Regions from separate parts of the Homo sapiens genome. Here region 1 is linked to region 2. Evidence: fine-mapped expression QTL. Tissue or cell type: whole blood. Region 2 holds a variant in brackets; the other region holds the start of a gene. All regions are shown on one strand. Distances are between the middles of the regions.

Evidence for each region. PIP is the estimated chance that this variant, and not a neighbour inherited with it, causes the effect.
Region 1: ALMS1 starts here. The variant in region 2 is fine-mapped to the expression of ALMS1 in whole blood (INTERVAL, PIP 0.92).

What each region holds. Positions count from the first base shown.
Region 1 is chr2:73,382,033-73,390,134 of GRCh38, reverse strand. ALMS1 (ALMS1 centrosome and basal body associated protein) reads right to left here and starts at 4,299. Exons shown (of 23, transcript NM_001378454.1): 1 at 3,943-4,299. The coding sequence starts at 4,266. It overlaps LOC105374804 (a long non-coding RNA gene), which reads left to right and starts at 4,454. Exons shown (of 4, transcript XR_007087053.1): 1 at 4,454-4,682. RefSeq lists enhancers at 3,511-3,750, 3,791-4,540 and silencers at 3,811-3,980, 4,141-4,540.
Region 2 is chr2:73,479,353-73,487,454 of GRCh38, reverse strand. All of the region lies in intron 9 of ALMS1 (ALMS1 centrosome and basal body associated protein), which reads right to left. Among named protein-coding and RNA genes, the nearest start is that of ALMS1-IT1, 26 kb to the right of the region's middle. RefSeq lists an enhancer at 116-635. The variant C/A (reference allele first, on the strand shown) is at 4,255.

The DNA.
Region 1 (8,102 bases), 97 kb after region 2:
ATATTCTATATATTATCATATATTCTCTCAGGTAAATAAGAAAATATCTAATTTTTCTCAGGGGAAAGAAAAAACTGTGGGGAGGAAAAAATACTCTGGGCTCTCAGAAGTAAGATTTTCTATTACCCATAGATAGTTCACGATTAGAGGCCGGGCGCGGTGGCTCATGCCTCTAATCCCAACACTTTGGGAGGCTGAGGCAGGCAGATCACAGGTCAGGAGTTCAAGACCAGCCTGGCCAACATGGTGAAACCCCATCTCTACTAAAACTACAAAAATTAGCCAGGCGTGGTGGTGGATACCTGTAATCCCAGCTACTCGGGAGGCTGAGGCAGGAGAATTGCTTGAACCCAGGAGGCAGAGGTTGCAGTGAACCAAGATCGTGACACTGCACTCCAGCCTGGGCAACAGAGCAAGACTTCATCTCGGCGGGGGAAAAAAAAGATAGTTCATTATTAAACAGGAAAATAATTTTCTCACATTGGCTGTAGTAAAAGAGGGTTAGCTTAAAAATTCCTCCTCTGGGTCCCTATCTCTCACCATATGCAAAGATTAACTCAAGATAGATTAAAGATTTAAATGTAAGGCCCGAAATTATAATAATCCTAAAGAATACTTAGGAAAAAAGTTTATGATTAAGACCTCAAAAGCAAATGCAACAAAAATAAAAACAGACAAATGGAACTTAATTAAACTAGAAGAGCTCCTGCACAGCAAAATAAACTACCAACAGAGTAAACAGACAACCTACAGGATGGGAGAAAATATCTGCAAACTATGCATCTGACAAAGGACTAATATCCAGCATCTATAAGGAACTCAAACAAATCAACAGGAAGAAAAAACAAATAACCCCACTAAAAAGCGGGCAAAAGACTGAACAGACACTTCTCAAAAGAAGACATACGAGCGGCCAAAAAACATGAAAAAATGCTCAACATCACTAAGCATCAGAGAAATGCAAATTAAAATCACAATGAGATACCATCTCACACCAGTCAGAATGGCTATTATTAAAAAGTCAAAAAACAGATGTTGGCAAGGATGAGAAGAAAAGGGAACACGTATACACTGTTGTTGGGAATGTAAATTGTTCAACTCCTATGGAAAGCAGTATGGAGATTTCTTGAAGAACTCAAAACAGAACTACCATTTGACCCAGCAATCCTACTACTGGGTATCTCTCCAAAGGAAATTAAATCATTTCATCAAAAAGACATCTGAGCCAGGCACACTGGCTCACACCTGTAATCCCAGCACTTTGGGAAGCCAAGGCGGAGTATCACTTGAGCCCAGGTGTTCTACACCAGCTAGACGCCATTAAAAAAAAAGAAAAAAATCTGTGCTCATATGTTTATCACAGCACCGTTCACAATAGCAAAGTCATGAAATCAACCTAAGTGTCCATCAACAACTGAATGGGTAAAGAAAATGTAGTATGTATTAATATACATTGTGGAATATTATGCAGCTATAAACAGAATGAAATCCTGTCCTTTGCAGCAACATGGATGGAGCCTGGAGGCTATTTATCAAGTGAAACAATTCAGAAACAGAAAATCAAATACCACATGCTCTCACTGGTAAGACAAGTGGGTACAATGGGTACACAGAGGCATAAAGATAAATGGGTACAATAAGTACCCACAGACATAAAGATGGAAATAAACAGACACTGGGGGCTCCAGAAGGAGGAGAGAAGGGCTGAAAAATTACCTATCAAGTACAATGTTACACTATCACGTACAAAGGTATATTATTTGGGTGAGAGGTTCACTAGAAGCCCAAACCTCACCATTATGCAATATATCCATGTTAATTACGTGCATATGTACCCCCAAATCTAAAATTAAATTAAAATTTTGTTTAAAAAACTCCTCCTCTAGGCTTCAAGATAAAGTTTGAATATTAATAGTTATTCAAGCAAGAAGTCACAGGACAAAATAAAAGTTAGAAGACCTAGTCAACAAGTGTGGCTTTAATTATGGTCTCTATGTAAATGACTTACAACTTGAAATCTCTAGCCCAGCCTTCTCCTTCAATCTTCAAAACCAAACTCATAATCTTAAGACTCACCCAACCAATTCCACCACCCACTCACAGCCACCACCTCCACCATAAATCTGGCCATATCTTAATATTGGCACAACCATTCAAACAATAACCTAACACCTGGCTACTTCACCTTTCACATCCCATCCGTTATTAAGTATGATGATTTTGCCTCTTAAATATCTCTCAAATCAGTCCACTTTTCCCTGTATCCACCAACACTTCCCTATTCCAAACTTTCATCATCTTTTGCCGGGCAATGCTGCAATGGTCTCCTAATTTATGCCCTTGACCTATGGCTACTGCTCCCCATCCCACCTTGCTATCACAGCTGTTCCACACTCTGCTATACACCTGACCTTTCTGAAACACCTAACTTATCATACATCCCCTCGTTTCAAATATTTTCTTCAACTCCCCAAAGCTCCAGAGATAAAGCCCCTAAATCCTTGGCATAGCACACAAAGCCTTGCAGTCTGTGCTCAAACCACGTTGGCTTCTGGGTCCTGGAAAATGCCATGCTCTCTCTCATCAACAGTACCTTTTCATGTGTTTTTCCCTCAGCTAGACGGCTCTTTCCCTCCCCTTTGCCTGATTAACCTTAAACTGTCTTCAGATATCAGCTCTATCATAACCTCCTCAAGAAGGCTTTCCCAACTTCACTGACAAGGCCAGATTATCTTACTTTATGCTTTCATAGAATATTAGCACATATATTAGTTTCACTTTATGTGATCATCTGAAATCTGTCTGCCTCCCTGTCTAGACCATGAACACAAGGAAGGCAGAGACCAAAAATGTTTGGGTTCACCAAGCTTTCCTTAGCACCCAGCACAATGTGTGGCACATGGTGAATTCTAATAATACATGTTCAATGAATTAAGTACCCCCTGGAATATTCACCAGACAAAACAACAACTACTGCTCATTAGTGACAAAACTCTACACCTTCACTGTCTGTGATGATGGAACTGTTCCATTATCTGCTCTGTCCAACATGGTAGCCACTAGCCTAGTGTGGCTGCTGAGCACTTGAAAACCGGTAAGAACAGACGCATGGAATTTTTCATTTAATTTATTTTTAACTCTTACTCAAAACTATAATAGTTTTCTCTTTAAGATGTAAAAAGCCACACGTGGCCAGTGGCTACTGTACTGAGCAGGGCAGGTCTTGCTCCTCGAAAAGCAGTAAGTTAAAAAAAGGGGGGTAAGGGCAGCAAATTAAATGGAGAGTTATTTTCAAAATGATCTTCGGGGGTCTACCATGAAATCGGCTTTCTCCATTGTGTATTATCTGTGCTTTGTAGTTTTGCAGACTGTTTGGAGCCGCATCACAAGCCTCCTGCATTCCAAGCCCCTCCTATCGGCTGGGGAACCCCTTTATTGCTACAAATGATGGTCCAGGGGAGGAAAACCCGCGGGGAGCCTCTCCAGACTAAGTGATCGCGCGGTGTACATTATCCACATTACTCCCTCAGGGGAGTCCTGCAATTCAGTCAAGCTCATCTGTTCACTGTCTCCCCAACAAGATGCTCCCCAGGCAACCACTCGCTCCGGTCCTACACCGCCTTTTCCCTCCTTCAAGGCTCGACACACCCGTGGTCCTCTCTCAGCGTTTCTCACGGGGAATGCAGGCTCCCCTGAACGTCTACGGGAGTTCAAAAGGCCCAGGACCCACCGAGGGGGAGGAAACGAGAAGTCTTTGCCACAAAGCCTGGGAGACGCGGAGCAGCCGGCCGGCACCTGGGCTGGAGTCTGGGCCGCCTACTAGCCTCAGCTGCGCGCGTTTTCTCCGTCAGGCGGCGTGACCTGCGGGCGGGCGGAGCGCTCGGGGCCCAGCCTCCACCCCCAACTCGCCGCGGCTCCACACCCCTCCCCGGCCCGCCTCACCTTCTCCAGGGAGGTCCGCTCGCCCTCCGAGTAGCGGTGCTGCGGGGGCGACAGCGGAGGCAAAATCCTGCCGGGGTGCGCCTGCAGCCAGGCCTTGGCCTCCTCGTCCTCCTCGTCGTCTATACTTTCCAGATGCTGGGGCCCGTAGTGAGAGTCGGAGTCCAACTCCCGCCCCGCCTCTTCCTCCACCTCCTCCACGACCACTACGTCGTCCACGTTCGCCGCCGCCGCCGCTGCAGCCTCCTCCTCTTCCTCCTCCTCCTCCTCCTCCTCCTCCTCCTCCTCCTCCAGCTCGCCCGGCCATGGCAGATCCTCGGGCTCCATGTTGGTGTCTCGCTCTGGGCGGCAGAGGAGGAGGAGGAGGGGGGGAGGGAGGGGAAGGGGAGAGCCCTGACTGGCGGTTGTGGCCCAGCTTAGGCGCAGTGCCGCCCGCCTGGGCGGGGCCGGAAGACCGCGCGCGCGTTGCTAGGGACGCCGCGCGAGGCCCGGCGGGAACGCCTTAGGGCGGAGGTTTGCTACAGGCGACGTTGCCGCCTCGCCGCCGTCACCGGCCGGGACCTTGCGAACTGTACTGTAAGCTCACAATAAACCGGGACTGGGCGCCTTCCGGGGCGCAGAGGGCCCCGCGCAAGGACAGTGTAGTTCTCGGCTGGGGTCGAGTTTCGCCCCTGCACAGAGAAGAGATCAAACTCTAGGACGTACCCGTTATAATCACACATGCAAATTATAAAGTTTTAAAGGTTGAGTATCTCCTAAAGTGTCAAGCTGTATGGTGGGCGCTTGAACCTAACCGTGGAAAAGTGTCACGGGTTGTTAGAGGGATTAAGAACTGGGCACTGGCATCAGAAAGATCGGAGTTTGAATCCTGGCATCACCACTTAAAGTGGTGTGACTTTGTGTTTATAAAACGATGATAATAGGCCATCGCATAGGATGGGTGTGATAATTAAAGGAAATAATCAATGTGAAGGACTTAGTGATAGGTTGGTTATTGTACAATAACTCATTAGATGCTCACGGTTCTGTGAGACAAGTATTACTATTTCATGTATGAAGAATCTGAGGCTAAAAAAATTAATTTGCCCAAAGTTTCTTACCTAGTAAGTGGCTGACTCAGTATGCCATCCCAGGTCCTCTGTTAGTGTAGGAATTGCCCTGGCCTAGACCAACCAGCTGTTAAAGGATAACAGAGCAAATATTTATACTGATAGTACATATGTTTTGGTGGTTCGTCAATGACTTTGGAGTGCTTTAAAAACAAAGATTTCCTGACCGCTTCAGGAACCTCTACGAAATGAATGGCAAATTAAAGTATCTTAAGATGCCATGTAACCAGACACCACCTGTACCCCCAATAACCTATGGGGAAAATTTTTAAATTAAAATTTTAAATAATAATTATAATCTTGAGATGCTTCACTGTTACCAAAGGAAATAGCCATAATTAAAGTGGAGTCCAGCAAAAAGTCTTCATGGTATTACCCACAATAGTAGAGATACATTGATAATGATGCTGAACCAATGTTGGTGGGGCAATTTTAGGGTTATTGCCAAGGATGTATGTCCTGCCTACCTGTCAATGACCCAATCCTGGCAAAACTTTAAGGGTAGAACATGAACTGGAGCCCAGTCTTGGAGTTCTGTTGAACACCTCTAAATGGACTATGAGTACATTAGGGTTATTTATTCTTAAGGGGTTTAGGGGTTCTCCTTGCCGGAGACCTATTACTGTAATAGTAGAAAAGAATTTATTAATTTTGTATTCCTGAATGTGAAATCTCAATGTTTATCTCCAGTAAGAGGACACACATTTCACTGATATTAAATAACTGTAAAGCTTTACCTTTTTAGAAACTCCGCTATCTTTTTGCATCCACAAATTTCAGGAAAGATAAAGAGAACTAATAGAATTCTAAAAAATAGCTTTCAAAGTTCTCTAACTTCCATCTAACTTCCAAAGCCCAAAGTACTTCTATTTGCCTTGATGGCAATAAGGTCAGTCCATTCTAAGGCCCATAAGTTATCTCCTTCTGAGTTAATAACAGGCTTCCTCATGTATTTGTGAATTACTTCCAATACTAGATGCTACTAATATAAGCTGTTATCACTAATTGCTGCAGGAGACTTCTAAGATTAACTCCTGCTTTATCAACAACAGATGGAAGCTGCATTCTCAAAGCACCCACCTAAGCAGCTTCTGAAGTTAGAGATTTGGTCTTCTGAAAAAGCATTAGAAAACAATTTCCCTTGAGCCTCAATGCAAGAAAAAAAAATGTCAGGTACTATCAACAACTGACCCAGGAGTAAAACTAGAAGACATTGATCCCTGGATTCATATTACACAACTAAAAAGACATGCATCATTTTCTCCTGGCTACCGGACATCCCATACTATTGGAAGACCTCAAACTGAAGATTCCTGGGACTTCCCCAGAAGCTGCTTACTGCAGAAATGGGCAGTTTATACCCAAGACAACAGGACAAGATTAATTTCTGATTCCTTGGCATCTCTTACCCTACCACTAATCTTGCTTATTGCATTTTGACACCCTTGATTAACTAACAAATTGATTTCTCGGGGAGATAACCCTTATCTTCATCCTGTTACTTTTGACTCCCTATGTTCTACTACTTAAAGTAAACATTATTTGGCCAGGTGCAGTGGGTCATACCTGTAATTCCAGCACTTTAGAAAGCCAAGGTGGGAAGATCACTTGAGACCAGGAGTCTAACTAACGTAGGCAATGTAGCAAGACCCCCATCTCTAAAAACAATAAAAAATTAGCTGGGCATGGTGGCACGTATCTGGAGTCCCAGCTACTCAGGAGGCTGAGGCAAGAGGGTCCTTGAAGCTCAGGAGTCCAAGACTGCAGTGAGCTGTGATCGTGCCAATGGGCAACAAAGTGAAACCCAATCTAAAAAAGAAAGAGAGAAAGGGAGAAGAGAGAAAGAGAAAGGAAAGGAAAGGAGGGGAAAGGGGAAAGGGAAAGAGAAAGGAAAGGGAAGGAAAAAAAGAAAAGAAAAGAGACACTTTCTGGAGTGTTTTTCTCAAACCGTAGCTACTGCTTTTAAGGAATTGTTGACAAAATTTAATAACTGTGCTTTCATAGACTTCATCAAGTAGATTTTCTTCTGTAGGTCACTTCTGGTACTTAAGCATTCCCCACAAAGTTCATCCCAAACCTCAGTCTTCTAAAAATTGGACCTTGACCTACACTTCAACAGAATGTTTCCCTGAAGTCATTACAATCCTATGAGAAAAACCTAGCCCTTCAGGAATAGAAACTAATATTGGGGCTATTCTTTATACACTACTCAGGTCATTCTCTTCCAAAACATTCCAGCCTGCTTTGGAGAAACCTGTTTAACTTCATCCAAGAAATCTGCTTATCCTGAGGGAAAGAAAGTTGGCTTGTCCCTGATGTGCTAAATAGCCCTTATCCTCCCAATGCAGTCTGTACTCCCCTAGGGTACTACTTATTTATGGGAACATCTGGCTTGCCCACTAACTTACCCTTTATATTGAAGCTAATTGTTAGAGACCCTCCAGTGCTTAAAATTACCACCCCTCCAGTAGACTGTGTTTCTTTGAAAAGAACACCCAGAAACCAACAAAATGAAGCAAGCACACAATCACAGACTACTTGGGAGAACTCCCAGGAGGGATAACTGACTCATTTTTCATGTGTACTCTGTGAATGAAATTCCTACAACAAAGATAATACAACAGAAAGAGATCAGATCCAAGAGAGGTATTTGACCTTAGCAGACCCCATAGATAGCAAAACTTCTGCTATAGCAGCTCAGAAAACCACTTAAATTTGAATTCCTTAGCCAGAGTTTTCATGGATAATTATATAACCCTTGATTTCTTCTTAGCTGGCCAAGGAGGAGTTTGTATTTAGCAACACTTGTCACCATACTCACATACTACTGGGCCAGTAGAACATACTACAGAGTCAGTAGAACATGAGTAAACTGAAAAGAGAAAATCCTCCTGGCTCCCTAAAAACAGACTCAGCTGGATTCTGGGGCATGTTTTCATTGCCAGGACTTTATAATCTGGGTCCCTGTCTTCAAGACTTTTTACAAAGATGGATAATCATTTTGTTTCTGGTAATTGCTTCTTTTGCACTTGGTCAACGTATCCTATCCACAGC
Region 2 (8,102 bases):
CACCACCACATTTCCCTCACCCAGATGTGGGTGCCCACAGCAGAAGCCACGCACAGTACATCTGGTCCAGCTGCAGCCTTGCGTGGCGCCAGCACCAGTGCCAGCACTGGAGCTGCCTGCCCTACCACAGCCGTCAGCATGCCTGGCTGTGTACAGTGGCTAGACCCCACACTTGCTTGCCCACACACCCCTCACCACTCCACACCTGGCTCATGCTTGGCAGGTGTAAGACATAGCATAGTAGTGCGAGCCAAGCACAGCCTGCCAGGCCAAGTGCGGAGAATGTGCCCAGCAGTGTGAACAATACTCAGGCAGAAGGTGCTGCTGGCCACAGTGGTTTCCAGCTTGCAAACTGACACCCTGAGGATCCTGTGACATTTTTCTTTCTTTTCTCTTCTTCTTTGTTTAAGACAGGGTCTTGCTGTGTCACCCAGGCTGGAATGCTGTGGCACTATCACTGAAGCCACGACCTCCCAGGCTCAGGCGATCCTGCCACCTCAGCCTCCTGGATAGCTGGGACAACAGGCACATGCCACTACACCGGGCTAATTTTCTTATTTTTATTTTTGTAGAGACTGGGTCTCACTTTGTTGCCCAGGCTGGTCTCCAACTCCTGGATTCAAGGGATCCTCCTGCCTCAGCCTCCCCAAAGTGCTGGGATTACAGGCATGAGCCACTGCGCCTGGCCAGATGTACTTTTCCCTATTTCTCCTGCTAAGTATAATTCAGCCCACTGGAAAATATATATAAAACAAATGTAAGAAGAATCTGAAAGATGTAGAGAAGAACGTAGATTAGCTAGAGATCTAGGGACCTGAGGAATTATGCTGTGGTGCAATCACTGGGTTTTCTTTTTCTCTTGCATATACAGACTTGGAGCTGAAGAAGTCAGCTACCCAGGAACAATGGACACAGACAAAAAACCCTAACAAGAGCTTTTCTCACTAGCTAAAAACCCAGTAGAGGTGAAGCCTAGCAAAAGAGAGAACTTTTAAATAATAACCATTCTACTCCAGCCAACCATCACAGAAAAAACTAGACCCACTCACACCAACACCAGCAAAGGCCAAGTGAGGAACCCAGGACTTACTTTCATCTCTGCTGGCTGATAAAGTGCTATCCCTTCCTTGCGGCGTCAGTGAAAGTCTAGCGAAGCCTACCTAGACTATCCAGCAAAACAAAATGCCCCTCTCTCTCCCAGCTACAGGTTACAAGAAAATATTTGCAAACCTCATATCCAACAAAGGTCTTGTATCTGCTAGCCTTACATCTAACATATATACTAACATATATATACAATTCACAACAGTAAAAAGGGAAAAAAAAGACAATCCAATTAAAAAATGGGCAAAAGAGGGACAGGAGCCAAGATGGCCGAATAGGAACAGCTCCGGTCTACAGCTCCCAGCGTGAGCCACGCAGAAGACGGTGATTTCTGCACTTCCATCTGAGGTACTGGGTTCATCTAACTAGGGAGTGCCAGACAGTGGGCGCAGGTCAGTGGGTGCGCGCACCGTGTGCGAGACGAAGCAGGGCAAGGCATTGCCTCACTTGGGAAGCGCAAGGGGTCAGGGAGTTCCCTTTCCTAGTCAAAGAAAGGGGTGACGGACGCACCTGGAAAATCGGGTCACTCCCACCCGAATACTGCGCTTTTCCAACCGGCTTAAAAAACGGCGCACCACGAGATTATACCCCGCACCTGGCTCCGAGCGTCCTAGGCCCACGGAGTCTCGCTGATTGCTAGCACAGCAGTCTGAGATCAAACTGCAAGGTGGCAGCGAGGCTGGGGGAGGGGCGCCCGCCATTGCCCAGGCTTGCTTAGGTAAACAAAGCAGCCTGGAAGCTCGAACTGGGTGGAGCCCACCACAGCTCAAGGAGGCCTGCCTGCCTCTGTAGGCTACATCTCTGGAGGAAGGGCACAGACAAACAAAAAGCAGCAGTAACCTCTGCAGACTTAAATGTCCCTGTCTGACAGCTTTGAAGAGAGCAGTGGTTCTCCCAGCACACAGCTGGAGATCTGAGAACGGGCAGACTGCCTCCTCAAGTGGGTCCCTGACCCCTGACCCCTGAGCAGCCTAACAGGGAGGCACCTCCCAGCAGGGGCACACTGACACCTCACACGGCAGGGTATTCCAACAGACCTGCAGCGGAGGGTCCTGTCTGTTAGAAGGAAAATTAACAAATAGAAAGGACATCCACACCAAAAACCCATCTGTACATCACCATCATCAAAGACCAAAAGTAGATAAAACCACAAAGATGGGGAAAAAACAGAGCAGAAAAACTGGAAACTCTAAAAAGCAGAGCACCTCTCCTCCTCCAAAGGAACACAGTTCCTCACCAGCAATGGAACAAAGCTGGATGGAGAATGACTTTGACGAGCTGAGAGAAGAAGGCTTCAGACGATCAAATTACTCTGAGCTACGGGAGGACATTCAAACCAAAGGCAAAGAAGTTGAAAACTTTGAAAAAAATTTAGAAGAATGTGTAACTAGAATAACCAATACAGAGAAGTGCTTAAAGGAGCTGATGGAGCTGAAAAACAAGGCTCGAGAACTATGTGAAGAATGCAGAAGCCTCAAGAGCCGATGCCATCAACTGGAAGAAAGGGTATCAGCGATGGAAGAAGAAATGAATGAAATGAAGCGAGAAGGGAAGTTTAGAGAAAAAAGAATAAAAAGAAATGAGCAAAGCCTCCAAGAAATATGGGACTATGTGAAAAGAACAAATCTACGTCTGATTGGTGTACCTGAAAGTGATGGGGAGAATGGAACCAAGTTGGAAAACACTCTGCAGGATATTATCCAGGAGAACTTCCCCAATCTAGCAAGGCAGGCCAACATTCAGATTCAGGAAATACAGAGAACGCCACAAAGATACTCCTCGAGAAGAGCAACTCCAAGACACATTAATTGTCAGATTCACCAAAGTTGAAATGAAGGAAAAAATGTTAAGGACAGCCAGAGAGAAAGGTCGGATTACCCACAAAGGGAAGCCCATCAGACTAACAGCGGATCTCTCGGCAGAAACCCTATAAGCCAGAAGAGAGTGGGGGCCAATATTCAACATTCTTAAAGAAAAGAATTTTCAACCCAGAATTTCATATCCAGCCAAACTAAGCTTCATAAGTGAAGGAGAAATAAAATCCTTTACAGACAAGCAAATGCTGAGAGATTTTGTCACCACTAGGCCTGCCCTAAAAGAGCTCCTGAAGGAAGCACTAAACATGGAAAGGAACAACCAGTACCAGCCGCTGCAAAATCATGCCAAAATGTAAAGACCATCAAGACTAGGAAGAAACTGCATCAACTAATGAGCAAAATAACCAGCTAACATCATAATGACAGGATCAAATTCACACATAACAATATTAACTTTAAATATAAATGGACTAAATGCTCCAATTAAAAGGCAAAGACTGGCAAATTGGATAAAGAGTCAAGACCCATCAGTGTGCTGTATTCAGGAAACCCATCTCACATGCAGAGACACACATAGGCTCAAAATAAAAGGATGGAGGAAGATCTACCAAGCAAATGGAAAACAAAAAAAGGCAGGGGTTGCAATCCTAGTCTCTGATAAAACAGACTTTAAACCAACAAAGATCAAAAGAGACAAAGAAGGCCATTACATAATGGTAAAGGGATCAATTCAACAAGAAGAGCTAACTATCCTAAATATATATGCACCCAATACAGGAGCACCCAGATTCATAAAGCAAGTCCTGAGTGACCTACAAAGAGACTTAGACTCCCACACATTAATCATGGGAGACTTTAACACCCCACTGTCAACATTAGACAGATCAACGAGACAGAAAGTCAACAAGGATACCCAGGAACTGAACTCAGCTCTGCACCAAGTGGACCTAATAGACATCTACAGAACTCTCCACCCCAAATCAACAGAATATACATTTTTTTCAGCACCACACCACACCTATTCCAAAATTGACCACATACTTGGAACTAAAGCTCTCCTCAACAAATGTAAAAGAACAGAAATTATAACAAACTATCTCTCAGACCACAGTGCAATCAAACTAGAACTCAAGATTAAGAATCTCACTCAAAACCGCTCAACTACATGGAAACTGAACAACCTGCTCCTGAATGACTACTGGGTACATAACGAAATGAAGGCACAAATAAAGATGTTCTTTGAAACCAACGAGAACAAAGACACAACATACCAGAATCTCTGGGACACATTCAAAGCAGTGTGTAGAGGGAAATTTATAGCACTAAATGCCCA[C/A]AAGAGAAAGCAGGAAAGATCCAAAATTGACACCCTAACATCACAATTAAAAGAACTAGAAAAGCAAGAGCAAACACATTCAAAAGCTAGCAGAAGGCAAGAAATAACTAAAATCAGAGCAGAACTGAAGGAAATAGAGACACAAAAAACCCTTCAAAAAATTAATGAATCCAGGAGCTGGTTTTTTGAAAGGATCAACAAAAGACTGCTAGCAAGACTAATAAAGAAAAAAAGAGAGAAGAATCAAATAGACACAATTAAAAATGATAAAGGGGATATCACCACCGATCCCACAGAAATACAAACTACCATCAGAGAATACTACAAACACCTCTATGCAAATAAACTAGAAAATCTAGAAGAAATGGATAAATTCCTCGACACATACACTCTCCCAAGACTAAACCAGGAAGAAGTTGAATCTCTGAATAGACCAATAACAGGATCTGAAATTGTGGCAATAATCAATAGCTTACCAACCAAAAAGAGTCCAGGACCAGATGGATTAACAGCCGAATTCTACCAGAGGTACAAGAAGGAACTGGTACCATTCCTTCTGAAACTATTCCAATCAATGGAAAAAGAGGGAATCCTCCCTAACTCTTTTTATGAGGCCAGCATCATTCTGATACCAAAGCCAGGCAGAGACACAACAAAAAAAGAGAATTTTAGACCAATATCCTTGATGAACATTGATGCAAAAATCCTCAATAAAATACTGGCAAACTGAATCCAGCAGCACACCGAAAAGCTTATCCACCATGATCAAGTGGGCTTCATCCCTGGGATGCAAGGCTGGTTCAATATATGCAAATCAATAAATGTAATCCAGCATATAAACAGAGCCAAAGACAAAAACCACATGATTTTCTCAATAGATGCAGAAAAAGCCTTTGACAAAATTCAACAACACTTCATGCTAAAAACTCTCAATAGATTAGGTATTGATGGGACGTATTTCAAAATAATAAGAGTTATCTATGACAAACCCACAGCCAATATCATACTGAATGCCCAAAAACTGGAAGCATTCCCTTTGAAAACCGGCACAAGACAGGGATGCCCTCTCTCACCACTCCTATTCAACATGGTGTTGGAAGTTCTGGCCAGGGCAATTAGGCAGGAGAAGGAAATAAAAGCTATTCAATTAGGAAAAGAGGAAGTCAAATTGTCCCTGTTTGCAGATGACATGATTGTATATCTAGAAAACCCCACTGTCTCAGCCCAAAATCTCCTTAAGCTGATAAGCAACTTCAGCAAAGTCTCAGGATACAAAATCAATGTACAAAAATCACAAGCATCCTTATACACCAACAACAGACAAACAGAGAGCCAAATCATGAGTGAACTCCCATTCACAATTGCTTCAAAGAGAATAAAATACCTAGGAATCCAACTTACAAGGGATGTGAAGGACCTCTTCAAGGAGAACTACAAACCACTACTCAAGGAAATAAAAGAGGATACAAACAAATGGAAGAACATTCCATGCTCATGGGTAGGAAGAATCAATATCGTGAAAATGGCCATACGGCCCAAGGTAACTTACAGATTCAATGCCATCCCCATCAAGCTACCAATGCCTTTCTTCACAGAATTGGAAAAAACTACTTTAAAGTTCATATGGAACCAAAAAAGAGCCTGCATCGCCAAGTCAATCCTAAGCCAAAAGAACAAACCTGGAGGCATCACGCTACCTGACTTCAAACTATACTACAAGGCTACAGTAACCAAAACAGCATGGTACTGGTACCAAAACAGAGATATAGATCAATGGAACAGAACAGAGCCCTCAGAAATAATGCAGCATATCTACAACTATCTGATCTTTGACAAACCTGAGAAAAACAAGCAATGGGGAAAGGATTCCCTGTTTAATAAATGGTGCTGGGAAAACTGGCTAGCCATATGTAGAAAGCTGAAACTGGATCCCTTCCTTACACCGTATACAAAAATTAATTCAAGATGGATTAAAGACTTACATGTTAGACTGAAAACCATAAAAACCCTAGAAGAAAACCTAGGCATTACCATTCAGGACATAGGTGTGGGCAAGGACTTCATGTCTAAAACACCAAAAGCAATGGCAACAAAAGACAAAATTGACAAATGGGATCTAATTAAACTAAAGAGCTTCTGCACAGCAAAAGAAACTACCATCAGAGTGAACAGGAAACCTACAAAATGGGAGAAAATTTTCGCAACCTACTCATCTGACAAAGGGCTAATATCCAGAATCTACAATGAACTCAAACAAATTTACAAGAAAAAAACAAACAACCCCATCAAAAAGTGGGCGAAGGACATGAACAGACACTTCTCAAAAGAAGACATTTATGCAGACAAAAAACACATGAAAAAATGCTCATCATCACTGGACATCAGAGAAATGCAAATCAAAACCACAATGAGATACCATCTCACACCAGTTAGAATGGCAATCATTAAAAAGTCAGGAAACAACAGGTGCTGGAGAGGATGTGGAGAAATAGGAACACTTTTACACTGTTGGTGGGACTGTAAACTAGTTCAACCATTGTGGAAGTCAATGTGGCGATTCCTCAGGGATCTAGAACTAGAAATACCATTTGACCCAGCCATCCCATTACTGGGTATATACCCAAAGGACTATAAATCATGCTGCTATAAAGACACATGCACACGTATGTTTATTGCGGCATTATTCACAATAGCAAAGACTTGGAACCAATCCAAATGTCCAAGAATTATAGACTGGATTAAGAAAATGTGGCACATATACACCATGGAATACTATGCAGCCATAAAAAATGATGAGTTCATGTCCTTTGTAGGGACATGGATGAAATTGGAAATCATCATTCTCAGTAAACTATCGCAAGAACAAAAAGCAAACACCGCATATTCTCACTCATAGGTGGGAATTGAACAATGAGATCACATGGACACAGGAAGGAGAATATCACACTCTGGGGACTGTGGTGGGGTGGGGGGAGTGGGGACGGATAGCATTAGGAGATATACCTAATGCTAGATGACAAGTTAGTGGGTGCAGCACACCAGCATGGCACATGTATACATATGTAACTAACCTGCACAATGTGCACATGTACCCTAAAACTTAAAGTATAATAATAAAAATAAATAAATAAAAATAAAAATAAAAAAAGAAAATGGGCAAAAGATACAGACATTTCACTTAACAGGAGAAAGAGACTGGAAACAGAAATATTAAAAAATGTGCAACATCAAAAACCATTAGGGAAATACACATTAAAAACTTAATAAGATACCACTACATACCTATTAGAATGACTAGAATAAAAATAGTGACAGTATCAAATGCTGGTGAGGATATGGAGTAGACGGATTACTCACACACTGCTGGTGGGAATGTAAATGATATAACCACCCTGGAAAAAGGTGTGGCCTGTCTTTCAAAAAACTAAACATGCAACTACCACATGACCCAGCAATTGCAATCCTGGGCATCTACCCCACAGAAACAAAGACATATTCACACAAAAACTTGCATATGAATGTTTACAGCAGCTGTACTGGTAAAGCCAAAAACTGGGAAACAACCAAGATGTCCTTCAATAGTGAATATTTAAACTGTGGTGCATTCATACTTTGGAATACTATACATCAATAAAAAAGAAAAACTACTGATACATAAAACAGTCTGGATGAATCTCCAGATAAGTATGCTGAGTGAAAAAAAGGCCAATACAATAAGGTTGCATACTATATGTTATCATTTATATGACATTCTTGAAATTACAAAGTTATAGAAACAAAGGAACAAATTAGTGGTTGCCAGGAGCTCAGTAAAAGGTGGGGCAGGAGAGAAGTGGAAGTAGCTATTA